2 separate regions of the Homo sapiens genome follow, and region 2 is linked to region 1. The links come from fine-mapping of genetic effects on gene expression. A gene starts in region 1. The other region holds a variant in brackets. All regions are shown on one strand. Distances are between the middles of the regions.

Evidence for each region. PIP is the estimated chance that this variant, and not a neighbour inherited with it, causes the effect.
Region 2: its variant is fine-mapped to the expression of SCRN1 in whole blood (INTERVAL, PIP 0.90).

What each region holds. Positions count from the first base shown.
Region 1 is chr7:29,985,990-29,995,420 of GRCh38, reverse strand. SCRN1 (secernin 1) reads left to right here and starts at 5,620. Exons shown (of 8, transcript NM_014766.5): 1 at 5,620-5,779. FKBP14-AS1 (FKBP14 antisense RNA 1) reads right to left here and starts at 6,765. Exons shown (of 3, transcript NR_187577.1): 1 at 6,628-6,765. RefSeq lists silencers at 5,494-5,833, 5,854-5,903, 5,914-6,183, 6,274-6,393.
Region 2 is chr7:29,915,600-29,925,061 of GRCh38, reverse strand. SCRN1 (secernin 1) reads left to right here. Exons shown (of 8, transcript NM_014766.5): 8 at 947-4,953. The coding sequence ends at 1,105. WIPF3 (WAS/WASL interacting protein family member 3) reads right to left here. Exons shown (of 9, transcript NM_001080529.3): 9 at 8,001-9,462. Among named protein-coding and RNA genes, the nearest start is that of FKBP14-AS1, 68 kb to the left of the region's middle. The variant T/C (reference allele first, on the strand shown) is at 3,073.

The sequences.
Region 1 (9,431 bases):
AAAAGAAGGAAACTTCCTCAACATGATAAATGGTATCTGTAAAAAACTCTACAAATAATATCATACTTAGTGGTGAATGACTGAACTTGTTTGTTCTCACTGTTCCTCTATAGCATTAAGTAGGTCCTAGCAAATGCAATAAGATATGGAAAAGAATTAAAAGGCAAATAGATTGAAAAGGAATAACTAAAAATGTATTTTTAGTCAACATGATTGAGTACAGAGAAAATTCTAACAAATGATGAAAAAGTTAATAGAATTCATAAGCATATTTAGTAAAGTCATAGGATATAAGGTCCATATACAAAAACCAATTGCATTTTTATATTCTAGCAATGAACAATTGAAAAATAAAATTTAAAATGATTAGTTACAATAACACCCAAAAACATGAAATAATTATTAAATAAAATATGTCCAAGACCTGTATGCTGAAAACTCTAAATATTTGCTGAGAAAACTTACAGACAACCTAAAAAAATGGAGAAATATACCATGTTCATAGATTGGAAGACTCAATATTATTAAGATGTAAATTCTCCTCAAATTGGTCTATAGATTGAATGTGATTCCAGTCAGCATTTTGTATAGGAATTGGCAAGCTGATTCTAAAATTTATAACCAAGTGCAGAGTACCTAGAATAGCCAAAACAGTTCTGAAAAAGAACAAACTTGGAAGACTTAAGCTGCCTGACTTCGAGACTTGATATAAATCTATAATAATCAAGAGAGTATAGTATTGGCATAAGAATAAATACATAGCCGGGCATGGTGGCTCACGCCTGTAATCCCAGCACTTTGGGAGGCCGAGGTGGGCAGATCGCCTGAGGTCAGGAGTTCGAGACCAGTCTGACCAACATGGAGAAACCCCGTCTCTACTAAAAATACAAAATTAGCTAGGTGTGGTGGCACATGCCTGTAATCCCAGCTACTTGGGAGGCTGAGGCAGGAGACTCGCTTGAACCTGGAGGGCGGAGGTTGCAGTGAGCCAAGATTATGCCATTGCACTGCAGCCTGGGCAACAAGAGTGAAACTCTGTCTCAAAAAAAAAGAATAATTATGTAGACCAATAGAATGGAAGAGAGAGTTGAGAAATATACCTACATTTACACGGTCAATTGACTTTTGTCAATAGCATGGTAAATCCTGGGGGAAAACAAATGGTGCTGGAACAATTGAATAGTCACATAAATAAACTTGGAATTTTACCTCCACTTATTCAAAAATTTACTTGAAATGGACCATGGTCTTAACATAAGTGCTAAAAAACTATACATCTCTGGATGTAAACATAGAAGAAAATCTTTGCAACCTTGGAGTAGGCAAAATTTCTTAGGACATAAAAAGTATTAACTATAAAAGAAAAAATATTGATAAATTGAGCATAACAAAATTAAAATCTTCTCTTCAAAAGACACCACTAATGAAAAGCGAGACATATACTGAAAGAATATATTTGTAATACATAAATATGATAAAGAACTTGTATCCAGATATAAGGAATTCTTAACATGTAATAATAATACTAATTAAAAATATAAAACTTTTTAACAGGCAAAAGACTTAAACACTTTCCAAAAGAACATATATGAATGGCTAACAAGTATAGGAAAAGTTGCTCACCATTATTAATCAGCAAAGAAATATAGGCTGGACATGGTAGTTCATGCCTATAATCCCAGCACTTTGGGAGGCTGAGGCGGGTGGCTCATGAGGTCAAGAGATCAAGATCATCCTGGCCAACATGGTAAAACCCCATCTCTACTAAAGATAGAAAAATTAGCTAGGCATGGTGGTGTGCAGCTGTAGTCTCAGCTACTCAGGAGAATGAGGCAGGAGAATTGCTTGAACCTGGGAGGTAGAAGTTGCAGTGAGCCGAGATCGTACCACTGCACTCCAGCCTGGAGACAGAGTGAGATGCTGTCTCAAAAAAAAAAAAAAAAAGGCAATATAAATTAAAACCACGAGGAGATTTCAGTACACATTTGTGAGAATCGATAAAATTTAGAAGATTGATAATAGCAAGTGTTGATAAGGATGTGGAGCAACTGGAACTCTCATATATTTCTGATATAATGTAAAATGGTAAAAACCACTTTGGAATACAGTTTGGCAACTTTTTATAAATTTAAATATACACCTGCCGTATGACTCACCCACTTCACTCTTAAGTATTAGGTTGGTTGGTGCAAAAGTGATTGCAGTTTTTGCCATTTTTAAAACAGTAATGGCAAAAACTGCAATTACTTTTGCACCAATCTAATGTTTACCCAAGAGAAATGAAAACCTACACTTACATAAAACTTGTAGATAAATATTATTAGCAGCTTTATTCATAATTGTTCCAAACTGAAAACACTATTAGTATCTGTGGTCATCACTGAGTGTACCCTCCAGACATGTTTAGCAGACAGCCTCTAGCTATAATCTCCTTCTGCCTCAGCTGCAGAGAGTAACCTCTGTAGGGATCATGTCCTTCTCAGGGCGGAAGAGAAAAAAGGAAATCTGTTATACTTGTATTTTTTAGCTCTTAAGTCTCTGAATATGACTAGATGGAATATAAATGACCGTGTAACAGTTGCAAGTCATTTAAGACATTTTTTTTCCTTGCAAGCTAGCTCATGGAAATCTTATAATTTACTCAAAGTTAAACCTCACATAATTGATAGAGGCCAATGATTAAAGCCCTTACTGATATTTCTTGGTGTTCTCCACATTTGTTGGACAGTTCTGTTCTCTTATCTCTATTTATGCAGCTCAAATAATAGTAGGGACTGTCTTTTGGATACAAAGCAGAGACAAAATAAGTGTATTGCTGCTGGTTTTTGTTTTTTAAGACGGAGTCTCACTCTCTCACCCAGGCTGGAGTGCAATGGCACGATCTTGGCTCACTGCAACCTCTGACTCCCTGGTTCAAGCTATTCTCCTGCCTCAGCCTCCCAAGTAGCTGGGATTATAGGCACGCACCACCACACACAGCTAATTTTTGTATTTTCAGTAGAGACGGGGTTTCACCATGTTGGCCAGGATGGTCTTGATCTTCTGACCTCGTGATCCACCCGCCTTGGTCTCCCAAAGTGCTGGGATTACAGGCATGAGCCACCATGCCCGGTCATTGCTGCTGTTTAATAAGCGTTCATAGTGCCATATAATAAGCTTCTCCATGCAGACCCTGGGGAAAGCAGGTGTCTTTCAATCTCCATGTGTTCCTGGGCTCCTGGCCTCAAAGCTCCTGTGGCTGTGTAGGGACAAACCAACAGGCTTCAAAGATCTCAGGCCAGGCAGGCAGGTTGGCAGTATCCCCTATCCGTGTACTGAGCATATGGCTGCCTCCAGGGGAGCAGCGTAGGGTGCAAGTGCCATCCTTTACACAACAAATGACATATACTGGCTATAGGAAGGCACAGGATTGCATTTGCCTTTCTAGTAGTGGTGTAGTCTTAAACTAGACATTTAAAACAGTGACTCTGGCTGGGCACGGTGGCTCACGTCTGTAATCTTAACACTTCAGATGGCTAAGGCAGGAGGATCATTTGAGTCCAGGAGCTTGAAACCAGCCTGGGCAACATAGTGAGACTCCATTTCTACAAAAATATTTTAAAAAGTAGCTAGGCATGGTGGCACATGCTTGTAGTCCTATCTACTCAGGAGGCTGAGGTAGGAGGATCACTTGAGCCTAGGAGGTAGAGGCTGCAGTGAGCCACTTCCCTCGAGGCTGGGTGACAGAGCGAGATCCCATCTCAAAACAAACAAAAAATAAAACAGCGACTCTGAGACTTTTAAAAAAAGTTTAATATTTATTTTAAGTTCTGGGGTATATATGCAGGATGTGCAGATTTGTTATATAAGTAAACGTGTACCACGGTGGTTTGCTGCACCTATCAACCCATCACTTAGGTATTAAGCCCAGCATGCATTACCTATTTTTCCTAATGCTCTCCCTACCCACACCTCACGGACTTTCAGACTTTAACATGCAAGAGAAACAACTAAAGAGCTTGAAAAATGCGGGTTCCCTGGCTCCAGCCCCAGAGACTCTGAATTCCATAGATCTGGGCTGGAACCCAGGAATAAGCCCGCTAGAAATTTCTAATATTGATTATTTAGACTCATTGGCTACAGTTTTCTTGGCTAGACTAAAAGAACAGTAAAGTACCTTTGTGCTCCAAGAGTCTACGAACCAATGCTCTATTCTGCAGTACCTACACCAACTTCCTCAGCCCTTCCCCACTATCCGTTTACTCATGTGTCAGACTGTAAGCACAGGCTCAACATTCAAAGGGCATGGAAAAAAGTCTCCTTCTCTCCCCAGCACCCAGTCTCCCAGTTCTGCTCCCTGGTGGCATCTATTACAGGTTCTTACGTACTCTTCCAAAGATACTCTGTGCATTTACAAAAATAAGTACAGACATACATATATATTTTCTTCCCACAAATAACACACACAACGTTCTGCACCTAGCTTTTTATTTTTCTTTAGTTAGTATAGGTTGGAAATAGTTTTGTATTAGCAAATAAAGATCATTCTCCTTTTTAAAGGAAGCTGGATAGTAGAGGCAGGCGGATTGCCTAAGCTCAGGAGTTTGAGACCGGCCTGGGCAACATGGTGAAACCCCATCTCTACTAAAAATCAAAAAAAATTAGCGAGGCTGGTGGCGTGGGTCTGTAGTCTCAGCCACTTGGGAGGCTGAGGCACGAGAATCGCTTGAACCCGGGAGGCGGGAGGCGGGAGGCGGGAGGCAGGAGGCGGAGTTTGCAGTGAGCCGAGATCCTGCCACTGCATTCCAGACTGGGCGACAAAGCAAGACTCAAAATGTTTTGATTTTTGTTAATCTGGCTGGTGGAAGATGCTACCCCACATATTTGATTTGCAGTTAAGTGAGCCTGAATATCTTTTCGTGTGCCAGGATAGAATTGCATTTATTTTCCTCTGAATTACGTCTTCATATCTTTTGAGATAGTCTTTTCTTATTTACTTATAAAAGATGGAGTTGACGCTGGCATCAACACACACACACACACACACACACAGACACACAACACACAAGTCCCTGTACATAACTTTATTAACCCAGATATGGAATCTTGGCTTAGTTACGTGCTGTGTGACCTTGGGCAAGTTACTTAACCTCTCTAGGCCACAATGTCCAAGTACCTGGGACAGGGTCTGGCTTACCAACATGGTACAGGACGGCACTTTTAAAACCAGGGACTCGACTTGGACGTGCGAGTCAACAAGGTACAGGACACATTTCTCTCCGGGGAAATCTTGTGTGGGCGCCGAGGCCCGGACGTAGCAACCAAACGTCGGGAAGAGGCGCCAAAAGGATGCTGGGCCTGGCTCCTTGAAGCCCGGGTTTTCCCTTTTGAGAGCCACAACCAAGAAATAAAAATCTAGCAAAGAGGGGGCCACTTTCTGCGGCGAGATACGCCCTCTCGGCCGCTCCTCCAGCTCCCAGGCCCCCTCCCTACTCGACGGTGAGCAGCGCCGCGGCCCGTGCAGCCAGACGCGCGGGGTGCGGCGGGGCCCCGGGGGCCGGGGTGGGGGAGGCGGAGGGTGGGCCCGCGGTCACGTGAGTCGGGCCAGCTGCTGCGGGGGGCGGCGGGCCCCAGCGCCGGGAGTCTGGGTAGGGGGAAGCGCCCGGCGGCCGCCTCCGCCACTGCAGCTGCAGCCCCCGAGGTCGCCGCAGTAATCCGGACCCGGCAGCACCCGCACCCTCGGCGGCCGCAGCCTCAGCACCGCAGAGCGGAGAGCGGAGCCCGGAGCCCGCCGCCCCAGGTGAGCCGCGTCTGGGAGCGCAGGGCGTTTGCAGCGCTGCTTTCCCGGCGGTTTCACCCCACCCGCCATCGCCACCTCCTGCGTTTCATCTCCTCCCGCTGTCCCTCCGAACCCGCGGGTAGCGTTACCCCAGGCCGATTCCCGGTGCTGGCCCGGGCGGGCTGGGAGCCTGGGGGCGGTCAGAGGAGAGGTGGCCTCGGCCTGAAGCCGGGGTGACTCGGCTCGGGGACTGCGGGGGTGCAGTGGAGGGATGCCGGCCCCGGGCTCCCGCACCGCAGCCGGGTTCCCCGCGCTGCTCTTCCTGGGTTTCCTTTTCCTGGCAGCCAACCTGCTGCCCACTGGGATGTGCCTGTGGGCCCCTGGCCTCGCCACCCTGGGGTCTGGGGCGAGCCGGGCACCTTCCCCGAGGTGCCGTACCTGCTGCGCGGGCGGGCGCCGCGAACATGGCTGCCCGGAGACGCCCGCCGCCTTCGGCCCGGCTCTGCCAGCGCGTCCAACTCGCCCGCGGCCGCCGCACCGTGTCCCGGAGCAGCCCTCCCCGCTAGGCCGACGCGCGCGGGCCGCCCCTGGGTTCTCCGCGGGCCGCGCGTGGGACTTGACACAACTTCCCTCGAGCCGCACCCGGGCGTTCTCCGCGGGGCGCCGGGCGGGGCTGCCGAGAGGCCGGCTTGGTCGGCCTCTGCCTCCTCGGCTCGCTCTTGAGGCGTCGAGTATTTGGCGACCTCACTCGCGAGGGCCGAGAGAAATGTGGTCTGCAAAGCAGGAGGGGCGCTTGAACTTTAGAGAATTGGCGAGAACTCGGATTTGGGAATAAAAATGTCCATGAAAACATCGAAGGAAACTGTTACCTGCTTTGACTCAAAGCTGACCTTGTAGGGTTCTGTTAAATAACGTGGCTTTTCTGGATTTTCTGTCTGATTCTAGCATGCAAGTCCTTGACTTACGCTTGCGTCCGGCAGCCGGGTGGGGTGGGTGCGTGCGTGTGTGTGTGCGCGTGTGCGCGTGTTGTGTTCCCAGCCTGGTTAGAAGATGCATCAGTTGCGGAGGAAACCTATGCTAATTCAAAATGGCAGCATGAAAAATAGGCCAGGCGGAAGCAGCACAGACCACAACCATCAGCTGCCCCCTGACTTAAGCCTCAGGGAGGGAATTAGTGTGAGTCAAGGCTCATCCGGGTATGGAGTAGAGAGTGATTCTTGGAGCTGGCTAGATTTTAGGGTGCTGCAGGGTCCTGGGAGTTGTTAAGTGGGAAGTTTGGAGAGCTGTAATTATTTTTCCTAACTTATCAAAAGATGATACAAAACCTAGTTAAAACTCTACGGTTTTGTATGATTTTCTCCAGGCTCAACTAAAGTTGACTCTGTGGCTGCTGATGTCTTTTTGATGCACAACCTGGAGGTCGTTTGATACCTACAAGCTCTTAAAAGAGATGTGTGCACATTGTAAACATCATCCAAGAGCAGTGCACATAACAAATACCAGGTTCTTAGATCAAGTTTCATTGGAAGAACTGATTTAGCGACACGAGGAAGCACCCAGGCATGAGGAAATGGGAAATTCTTGAAAGGTGACTCATTTTAGAATTTTTTTTTTTTAAACAGCCTTTCTTTCCCTTTTCACTTCCGTGCTGCCAGCCATCTTGTCTTTTGGGAAGGAGATACATGAGGAGGCAAATGCTTCAGGGATAATGGAATAGAGGAGGATGAGCTAAGGTCGGGGGGCAGAGGTGGAGGCAGTCTTAAGGAGCCTGCTGTCAACCCCCTTTTTACAGCAGGAAGGCTGAGGCCAGCGGGGCGAATGGACGCCAAGATCATATATCTGGCTGTCAACTGGCAGTGAGAACCCAAATCCAGGTCTCATAACTCCCCCGGGTTCCACATGCTACCTTTTAGAGCCTGGGGGAGAACAGCAAGTCTGTCATTATTAGGAAGGCAAACACTTCGAGCAATGGGAAGCCAAACTGTAATATGAATTACAAAGTCTATAGGTGTTTAAAGTCAATGACAACACCTTAATTTCCTAATTCAAGACTTTTAACTTCTTAAGCTGTATCTACCTCATGTTCACATTTTCCAGTGGTGAAACTGTTTCTATAGTTAAGAACCAAAAACATTATTTTAGTAAAGTCTTTGAGGCAAGAAGTACATTTTTTGATTAAAAATTGAGTTGCTTGTGTTTGTGGAGAACCATTAGGCCAGTTTATTTTGAAAAGGAACCAAAGTAGGCCATGCATTTCATTTTTTTCGACTGTTTCTAATTTTAAGTAAAAGTAAATAACAAGCCTATTGTAAACATAACTTTGAAGCAGTGAAGACAGGCTTTTCCTATGATTTGCATTTGACTTTTCTGAGTCATGAGTCAGTGACCTTAGATCTACTAAAGCAGAGCTAGAAATTGTGCATGGGTTAGTGTGAAGAGGTGGTGAAGATGTGGAAAACGTTTCTTCTGGGCATCTGAACCTTCACAGCCAGTGATGTGCAGAGGGAGAAGGTGGCAGGAGGCAGGGAACAGGGAGAATGTCTTGAGGCAGTGGAACAGATAGGAGCTAAATATGAATATATATATCGAAGTGAAGACAGATGCTGATGTGACATGTGCCATTTAGAAAACTAACTTGCAGCCGGGCGCGGTGGCTCACGCCTGTAATCCCAGCACTTTGGGAGGCCGAGGCGGGCGGATCACGAGGTCAGGAGATCGAGACCATCCTGGCTAACACGGTGAAACCCCGTCTCTACTAAAAATACAAAAAATTAGCCGGGCATGGTGGCACGCGCCTGTAGTCCCAGCTACTTGGGAGGCTGAGGCAGGAGAATCGCTTGAACCCGGGAGGCGGAGGTTGCAGTGAGGCGAGATGGTGCCACTGCACTCCAGCCTGGGCGACAGAGCGAGACTCCGTCTCAAAAAAAAAAAAAAAAAAAAAAAAATTAAAAAAATTAGAAAACTAACTTGCATTAGAGGATGAATGTGAAGATATGCCAAAGATATTTAAAATAGCAAGTTGTAAAAATACAGAAATGCATGCAATTTGTGTCTGTTGAAGAATAAGAATACAGATAAACAAAAGTTATTTTTTTTTAAATCCGTTTTCATTAGAGTCTAGATCTGTGCTGTTTCATCTGGTAGCCACCAGCCTCATGTGGCTATTGAGCACTTGAAATGCAGCTAGTTTGTATTGAGATATGCTGAGTGTAAAATATACACACAATTTCAAAAATTTAATATGAAGAAAGAATTTAAAATATCATTAATAATTTTATATTGATTTTATATTGAAGTAACATGTTGGATATATTGGGTAAAATATATTACTAAAAATAATTCCATGAGTTTCTCTTTACTTTTAAAAATGTGGCTACTAGAAAATATAAAATTGCAAATATGGTTCGCATCTGTCTTGCTCTCTCTCGAGACAGGGCCTCCCTCCGTCACCCAGGCTAGAGTGCAGTGGCACGATCTCGGCTCACTGCAACCTCTGCCTCCAGGGTTCAAGCGATTCTCCTGCCTCAACCTCCTGAGTAGCTGGGATTACAGGCGTGCGCCACCACAGCCCGGCTAACTTTTGTATTTTTAGTAGAGACAGGGTTTCACCATATTGGTCGGGCTGGTCTCGAACTCCTGACCTCAGGTGATCTGCCCGCCTCGGCCTCCCAAA
Region 2 (9,462 bases), 70 kb after region 1:
GATGAAAACTGTCGCTGTGTGGTGTATGGTGTTTTGGGTATTTGGTTCATTAGAATGAAGAGGTAGAAAGGGCTGTGTGTTCAAGATGAGGCTGCTGAGGCTGGTGGGTTTTGAAATTTACAAATGACTCTCAGGTGGAGTCACATGATGCTGCATGAAGCAGTGGTGGGCGGGTGGTGAGAGCAGCTTCTCAGTTCTGGGACTCATGGGGCAAATGAAAGCTTTCACTGTCATCTGCCATAAATGAGTGAGTCCCATGGAAGAAGTGAACTCACCATCTCAGAAAAAGAGTGAACAGGGGAGAGACATGGCACCTGTTTATTCATTGATCCATTTTTTTTTTCATTCAATGAACATTTTTTGAGAGTGCCCTCCCAGTCACTGGAGGATAGAAATGAGCCCAGTTCCCATCCAAGGGGCCACAGCTGCAGAGGCAAGCCAGCACAAGGTGGGAGACAGCGCCCATGGCAGGGGGAACGGTGTGGCACTGTGCGGGGAAGAGGAAAGGCTTTGCAAGGAAGCTGAAGATGGGTGCACGTCGACCAAGCGCTGAGAAAGGGGATGGCCCTCCAGAGGGCAGGGCCACCTGTGCAGGGGCGAGACAGCAGCAGAGGCTGGAGGGCTACAGTGAATTCAGTCCAGCTGAGGAGTGGGGAGATGCAGGGGAAGTGGTCTTGGATGTCAGAAGGGCCTTCCCTCAGTGTCACTCTGGGGTCTGGGCTTTGTCCTGAAGGCAGCAGAAAGCTGTGCAGGTGTTCTAAGCCGGGCAGTGACATAATCATACTGGCATTCTAGAACAATCCCTGCGGCAGTCGTGTGTGAAACGGAGTGTGGGGAGGACAGGACCTTGAGCAGGAAGCCAGCTGGCCCCCTAGAGGGTTTCAGTGTCCGCTGCAATGTCCCCTGCTATTTTGCTGACACCTAAAGCAGTCGTGTCCTTCCTCAGGAGCAAGGTCGCAAGCTGAGGAGCACCATGCTGGAGCTGGAGAAGCAAGGCCTGGAAGCCATGGAAGAAATCCTGACCAGCTCCGAGCCACTGGACCCTGCGGAAGTGGGGGACCTTTTCTATGACTGTGTTGACACGGAGATTAAGTTCTTTAAGTGAAGTAAGCGTTCCCTTTCCCCTTCTTATTTAAGACTTCCCACCTTACTAAATTACCAGCAAAACAAACCACTCTCCTGTTTGAGTAAAATGAGAAAGTTAATATGTGGCCTCCTTTTCTGAAGCCAGATCAAACTGTTACCTTGTGTTCCACCTTGAATCTCACAGCGTCCCCTTCTGCAATGTAGGTCTCCTTCCTGTGCAGTGTAACATGTATCCCGTTGCCTGTTGTTCGGTTGTGTGACTAATTGTGGATTTTAAGCTGCTATTATTGTATTTCAGTGGCAATGGACACATTAGCCTTTTACAAGAGGACTAGAGTTCATCAAGCCTTGAAAGGCAGGCTTCACAGTGCCGAGTTGGCGGGAAAAGCAAATTCTTTTGAAGTCTTAGTCTTTCCCTCAGTAGCGGTTTCTTTCAGGTTAACAAGAGGCATTTGTGCACACACACAGGGCTCTTGTGTGTGTTGTCAAGGGGACCCTCCGTGGCCTCCCGTGAGTGCATGCCTGTAGTGCACAGTGTCTCTACAGGTGTCTTCTGGGGGGCAGAACCAATTGGAAGGAAGAAAGGGACCCCTCTCCAGTCCTGGCTCCTTCCTACATCCTGGGCTCCTGAAGAAGCTGTCTTCCCATTTTCCATGCGCTGTGCTTATGTGTGGTGGACTGCAGAGCTGCTTCCACTTACAGGAGAGCTGATAATTTGTTAGCTGGAACCTATTCACTTCCGAGATTCAGACATAGCCATGCTGGTGGCCTTCTGAATCACTGCATGGATGTCCCAGGAGGCAGCTCTCCCCACACAGCAGCACAGCCATCACAGGATTCCTTGTGTAGAAATGATTCCCAGTCTAGTTACCAACAGCTAGTCTAGGAGTAATTGAATGGCCCTATGGCACAGTTCCACCCACAGAGTAGTGAATCTCTCAGCCAAGGAGGGAAAGAAAAGGAAGAACTCTTGACTATTTAGATTCTAGTTAAATATCTGGAATCCTAGCAGTCACTACATTATCTCAGCAGAGAGACTTTAATTAAACTGATTTGTTTCCAATGTCGGGTTCACTTAAAGGATTTGACTTACCACCAGAGCATAGAAAAGCATGCAAGGAAGACCAGATGGGCTTAGCATTGGGAAGACAGAGGGCAAGGAGGTGATAGATGGATATAGAAGCATTTCTCTGCAGGATACCAGTTCAGGCCCCACCATTCCTGCCAAGGCCATTACATCCCACAAACCCAAATACAAAGCAGCTGACTTCCCTGGATCTTCCCCCCACTCCTCACACCTCACATGTCCCAGGAGCTGCCTTCATTCAGGCGGGTAGCTGCACTGGGCATGGGGTGGTGGTGGGAGCTTACCGCCACCTATTCAAGCTCTCAGCTACTCCTGAAACGGGCAGAGATGATGAACAGAAGTGTATGTAAATACAGCAGCTAGTGGGAGAGCACCAGTTGGGCCTAATCCTGCCTCATCATTCTTGGCAGGAATCTGCAAATGGAAACATTGTGAGTATCAGCAATCTGGGAAGTGACAGGGTTAATAACTCCTTCCCAGAAGCTGTATCATGAGATTTTGAGGGGACCGAGCCCTGTTACATGGATGTGAACAGTGAGGATCAGAGGTTTTATCAGAACACATTCTTTTTTTCTACCAACTCTCCAGAGCGTGAGTATAGGAGTGCCATGAGCTTTTTAGTCAGCAGTTTTGTAAACTCTGTATATAAAATCATTAACCACACATTGTGGGTGATGGGAAGACGATTTCAGCTGACAGAGTTAATGGCAACCAATAATGGTGGCCTGTAGCTGCTAAGAGCTTCACGCAGGTTTGGCCTGGGCTTTCACTGTTGGTGAATTTAGAGTGTCCTTTTAGGTGGGGCGGCTATTCTAAAAGTGTCTTTCTATCACTGTTAAGGGGGGGGGAAAGTGAGGTTCGAGGATGACGTAGGTAACTCTCCCCTCCCAAGTCCATGT[T/C]CCAAGTGGCTATGTAAAGCAAGATGATACAGAAAGCTGCTCTAAAATCTCACTGAGTGATTTCACCTTCGCCTACTATGAAATGTCTCATCAGACCTGACATGTCTGAGATAACCAAGGTGATTCAGGATTTGATCAAAAGAAGTCTAGTAAGAATTAATTACACAGAAGCCTCCTTTCATTTCTATGGGCCAAACAAAGGCCATGGATAACCCTACCCGCTTTATGTCATTACCCATTGGGAAACACAATGGCTACTTCTGTTAGGGTACATTGACCTTGGTCAAGCATCTTAAAGAAGGCAACCCTAATTGAGAGCTGTCTTGGCTAATACTCTGCACCACAATTGTGATGTCCTAGTCCTACCACTAGAGGGCATGGTACAGCCTGGCAAAAGTTAAAAGGGGTGTGGCAGCTCCCATCAGGTCTGGAGGTGGTCTATAAGCACAGTTGACAGTTGTGCATTGGGATGGGTGGAGAAAGACGACAAGAGAGCAGAGAATCTGCTGATGTGGCTGCGCTTACTTTTAGTGACTTTATGTACTTATATTAACAGCTGGAAATAGGTTGTTGGGTTTTGAGCAGGCTGTTATAGTGAGGAATGTTCATTTTTAAATGTTCCTAACAGATTTTGCTTTTGAAAAATGCTTGTTACATGAATAATTTGTGGACCAGGGATTGCTTTTCTGAAGGCAGTATAGGGAACATGAATATTCAAGATGAAATACAAAAATTATGTTTAAGGGTCATAGTGTATAAGTAGCTTCCTAGGAAACCCTTTGTGTATCTTTTCAGACTGGGGTGGGGGCTGAGCATGCTTGTGCAGAAAGAAGCCATAGCCAGAAAGGACAGAATCTCTCCCCCACTCCCTTGCCCCATAACCAAACATAAGCTAGCTAGTCTTGTCTAATAGATGGGATTTACTATAGGTGAAGATAGCCCTCATATTCAAGGACAGAAGCTCTGGCAGGAGTAAATTAGCAAAGCAGAAATAGTACCCTTTCATTCTTGGAGGTGCTTTGAAATTTTAGGTAGAATATAATCGAAATTATGGAGGTTCCTTAGTGCTCAATAATATAAGACCTGGTGTTATTAGAACGAGTCTTTCTTATAAACTAACAGAGCAGGTATATGCCTGTTAGACCTTAGCTGTGGGGTTCCTTTACTATTGGGTGAATCATTAGGTATAAAAAATAATCATCAACCAGGCAAATTACTTTGCTTCCTAGCTGATGTCATCCCACATTGGTACAGGTGTTATTCAGTACTGGGTGGTTCAGCAGGGAAGCCGGGTGGGACCAGTGTGTCTGTCATGAAACCACTAACTGCATTCCTGACTGAAGAGCCATCTGTCATTTATTGGGGAAGGTCTTCAGTTGAGCTCTCAGCCTTAGGAAGGAAGCACGTGGAGGAGGGACGGAGGAGGTTCCCTTGCTGGGCATGCTTCGTAGAGGGCCAGGAGCAGCAGGTCATGTGCACATGCCGTTGCAGCACAAGCTTATGCTTCCCGTAGCCGTGGCTTTTCATTCTGCACAGTCCCAGGTCCCAGCTCCCCTCTTATGGTTTCTGTCATAATGTGCTTTATCTGATTGACTCCAAACATCCCGAAATGTCACCTGCAGATTTCTCGTGGGAACCAATATGTACATGTTTGCAATTATGCTGTGAGAATTTAAATGTGTTAGATGGAAAATGCTATTGGCAGGGAATAATAATAAAAAAAAAAGAAAATCATTCTGTTTCCTGCAGTGGGAACTGGCCATGTAGTCTTAACAGTCTTTTGTACAAATATCTACAAAGCAGATAATATCCCTATCCAGTGCTTGCCCTTGGAATTGTCTCTAAATGCATCAAGCATACAATAAAAAAAACTGAAATTAACATCCAGTGGAGTGGCCTCTTCTGTTTTGTGTCTCGTGAATAAACGTGGGCCTCAGTCGCAATATAGAAAATGTATGAGAATGGATATATTTTTCTGGCTAGAATCTTTAGAAAACAGTCAGTTCAGCAGTTTCTTGCATCATGTAATGTTCTGTGGATAAATTCAGTCTTTAAATATAAAACCACAACGAAATATCACCTCACACCCGTCAGGATAGCTACTATTGAAAACAAAAACAACAACAACAACAAAAAACCACAACCAGAAAATAACAAATGTGGGTGAGGATGTGGAGAAATTGGAACCCTTATGTACTGTTGGTGGGAATGTAAAACAGTGCATCCATTGTGGGAAACAGTATGGAGTTGCTCAAAAAATGAAAAACAGAACTGCTGTATAATCGGGCAATCCCACTTCTGGGTATACACAAAAGAATTGAAAGTAGGGTCTGGAAGAGAGGTTGCACACCCATGTTCATAGTAGCACTATTCACAGTGCTAAAATCTGGAAGCAACTCAAATATCCACAGATGGAAGAATGGAGAAACAAAATGTGTTCTATCCATACAATGGAATATTATTCATCCTTAAAAAGTGGAAGCAGATTCTGACATGCTACATGGATGAACCTTAAGGATGTTATGCTCTGTGAAATCAACCAGTCACGAATATTATATGGTTTCATTTCTATGAGGTACCTAGAGCAGTCAAAATCACAGAGACGGAAATTAGAAGGGTGGTTGCTAGGGGCTGGAGGTGGGGGAGAAATTGGGAGTTACTGTTTAATGAGTATAGAGTTTCAGAAAGTTTCGCAAGATAAGTTATGGAGAGGGATGGTGGTGACGGTTGTACAACAATATGAATGTACGCAACACGAATGAATTAAGCACTAAACATGGTAAGCATGGTAGACTTTATGTGTATTTTACCATAGTTATTAGAATGGAAGTCTAGATCATCAGAGTGGCTGGTACTCTGTGCCAGACATCTTGATTCCAAGGCATCAGCAATGCCACAACAGGAGAGGATGCCACTTAGGGAAAAAGCCAGCTCTCTTCACTCCTGTGACCCAGAAATGCCAGCTTGCTTTCCATGACTCTCCACTGTGACAGGTAAAACGCAACTGAATGTCTTGCTCGTGAAGATAGGACTTAGTCACCTGCAATGAATGACCTATTTCAAGGTCAGGGTAGATGACTGCTCTGTTTACATGATAAGGAGCTGCTAATTCTGAAATTTTATTCCCAGCTCTCTTTTCATAAACATTGTACCCTCCTGCAAAGCTCTGGGTGACAAAGCCTGTATTCTTTTGCTGGGGCTGCCGTCACAAAGTACCACAAACTGGGCAGCGTAACCAGGAGAAATTTCCTGGTTCACAGTTCTGGAGCCCAGACGTCCCAGGAATAAGACATCTGCAGGGTTGGTTCCTTCTGAGGGCTGTGAGAAAGAATGTGTTTCATGTCTCTTGCCCACCTTCTGGTGGCTTGCTGGCAATCTTCAGCACTTTGGGACCCATAGAAGCAGCATCCTGATTATCTCTGCCTTCATCTTCATGTGGCGTTCTCCCTGTGTCTATGTCTGTGTCCAATTTCTTCATTTTATAAGGACACCAGTCATATCGCATCAGGGGCCCACCCTAATCCAGTATGACCTCATCTTAACTAACGATATCTGCAATGGGCCTATTTCTAAATAAGGTCACATTCTGAGGTACTGGGGGTTAGGACTTCTTCAACCTATGGATTTTTGTGGGGACACAATTCGACCCATAACAGAATGGGTGGGTGGAGGATGCTGAAGCCTCCCGGGGCACCGTCTGAGAATTTGGAACTTGCTTCTGGAGTCCATGGCCCTTCCCATTAACTTGCTCCCTCTCTAGGAAGCACGTCTCTCACACTTAGCTCCATAAAAGGTGCTTACACTTCTAGCTACTTCACCACGGCCATGCTCAATGTGACTCTGAAGTTCATCATCCACTTTGTAGATTATCTTCGGCCCTTACTTTTTCTTCCCCATTCAGACTGGCCCTTTTGGCCATCAAAGAGCCAATCTGTACCTCCACCAATAAGAGAGCAATAAAACGGCCCCTTAACTAATTCTGATGCAAAGTGTGTAGTAACCAGCTTTGAAATTAGTTTCTAGATGAGATTTATTTCAGGAACATCTATGAATTTTAATGACTGCTCTCTCATTGTTATCCAGCAGCAGAGTTAGTGAAGTGTGGTCTGAGTAGCTCAGCAAATACTGAATGAAGTGCCTGGGATGCAGCCAGCAGAGCCCTGTTTGTGCCCAAGCATGGAACCAGCAAACTGGCTGCTCCCCGGGGTGCAGGGTGTGCATCACTGGCTCCGTTGTGATCCAAGGGTTGAGGGCTTGCCCATGTGTATTACATCATTGAATCTTCACCAATATACACTCGGGTACATATTTATGTCCCCTTTTGACAAATGAGGAAGCTGAGGCACAGATTGTAAGAGGCAACTTGTAAGAGGCAAAATGGAGATTCAGATCCTGGTTTGCCTTCTAAGCACTAGCTCTGAGATAGCTTGCCTAGCAGATAAATCTCACCTCCCCTGAACCCTGTTCCCAAAGGTCCACCTTAAAATACTACAGGGGGATTCAAGATGATTCTGTTCCTACAGGAGGCTTTTTTGGGGGGTTTGCTGAGTTGGGAGTGGGGACTAAGTGCACGTAGAGGGAAGGTTGTTCTATTTCAACACAATTTAGCAGAATTTATAAGCAATACACTGCCCATTCTGTGTTAATCAAACTGAATAAATATAGTGTTATCTACTTTTTAAAAAATGCACCTGAGAAATTTTTTTTTTCTTGCTTGTTTTTTCCAAATACCAATTAGGCTAGTTAGCTCAAGAAAGAAAGGCCCTGTTTCTAACACAGTATGTTACAGCAAGCACCGTATCCATGTAAATATCTATTTTTTTTCTATCATTCTTAGAACTTCAACTTCTCCTGATCCTTAAAAATGTTTGGTTTAGATTGATACTGGTGACCACCGATGGGTTTTAACAAGGAAACGACTGGAAGCATTTCCACTTACTAAAGTTTATTAAGTACAAAGAAATGAATCTGCGGAAGGAGACATCAATAAATATAAAATACACGTGAAACATTGGAGGAGTCACAGACTGCAGTGTCAGTGAGAATATGTGACAATGGCGGGGACTGTGTGACTCAGATGTCTCTAAGTCTGAGTTTACAGTCAAGGGGTTAAACCTTTACAGCGCCCAAGGGACTCAGTGCACCAGCATGAGCTCGAAGGGTTGTGAATTCAGTGATAGGTCTCAAGGGGAGATGGGATGCCACATTCCTGAGATTTCTCCCTAATTGCCATTTTTGGTTTCTGCTCCTTCCTCCCCTCTGTCCTTTTTTTTTTTTGAGTTAGGGTCTCGCTCTGTTGCCCAGGCTAGAGTGCAGTGGTGCCATCTCAGCTCACTGCAACCTCCACCTCCAGGGTTCAAGCAATTCTTGTGCCTGAACCTCCCAAGTTGCTGGGATTACAGGTGTGAGCCACCATGCCTGGCTAATTTTTTGTATTTGAGTAGACAGGGTTTCACCATGTTGGCCAGGCTGGTCTTGAACTCCTAACCTCAAGTAATCCACCCACCTCAGCCTCCCATGCTGGGATTACCTGCATGAGCCACTGCTCCTGGCCCGCTCTGTCCTTAAATAGTGTTATTTTAATTTCCATCCCAGCCATAGGAGACACGAATGTCTAAACACCTCATTAGGGCAGGCAGTCTACTCTGAAGGTGGAATTGCCTTTGTCTAGGGTCTTCTTAATCAGGATCATTAAAACTTCTATAATTATTTTACACAACTGTGAGGGCAGTGGAGTGGACACTGTTATAATAATAAATTCTGGCTTTTTGGAAATCTTCCAGAACCAATAAAACAAATTAGTTATGCCCAGAGCTGATGACCTGCAAAAACTTCTACTTATTTAGCTGTTACAGTTTGGGCTTGATTCATTCCCCTGGAGAAGGGAATTTGACCCTGGCTCACTTGCTTCCATCTGGAATGAGAAAGCACAGCACTGCTGCAGGACACCACCTGAGTCGTTACTCCAGACAACAGTGAGGCAGATGCAGTCATGTTTGCCCACACCCTCCTGACCGGCTGCCTTTCTGGATGGCTTGGTCTGTTCATGATATACTTCAGGGGTGAATGTGTGCGTGGGTTGTTGCAAAGCAAATTTCTTTTTCGCTGGTTTCCCTCCCCTCCCTGCCTGATTTCCTTTAAAGGGCAGCTATTTTGAGCACAGCCCAGGGATCAGTCTGTTTCCTTCTATTTTTTCTCCTTCCTCTGTCACAGTCTTCCCCGACCAAAGATGGGGAACATCAGGGGTCAGGCAGCAAGCAAAAACACATTTCCACTCCCTACAGGATCAAGAAGAGGGAGTGAAGAGCAGGACCAGCCCGGCCTGACCTTTTCCATATTCAGAGTGGCTGAGCTTGCACACATCTCCCCACAGACAGGTGCCCACCACAA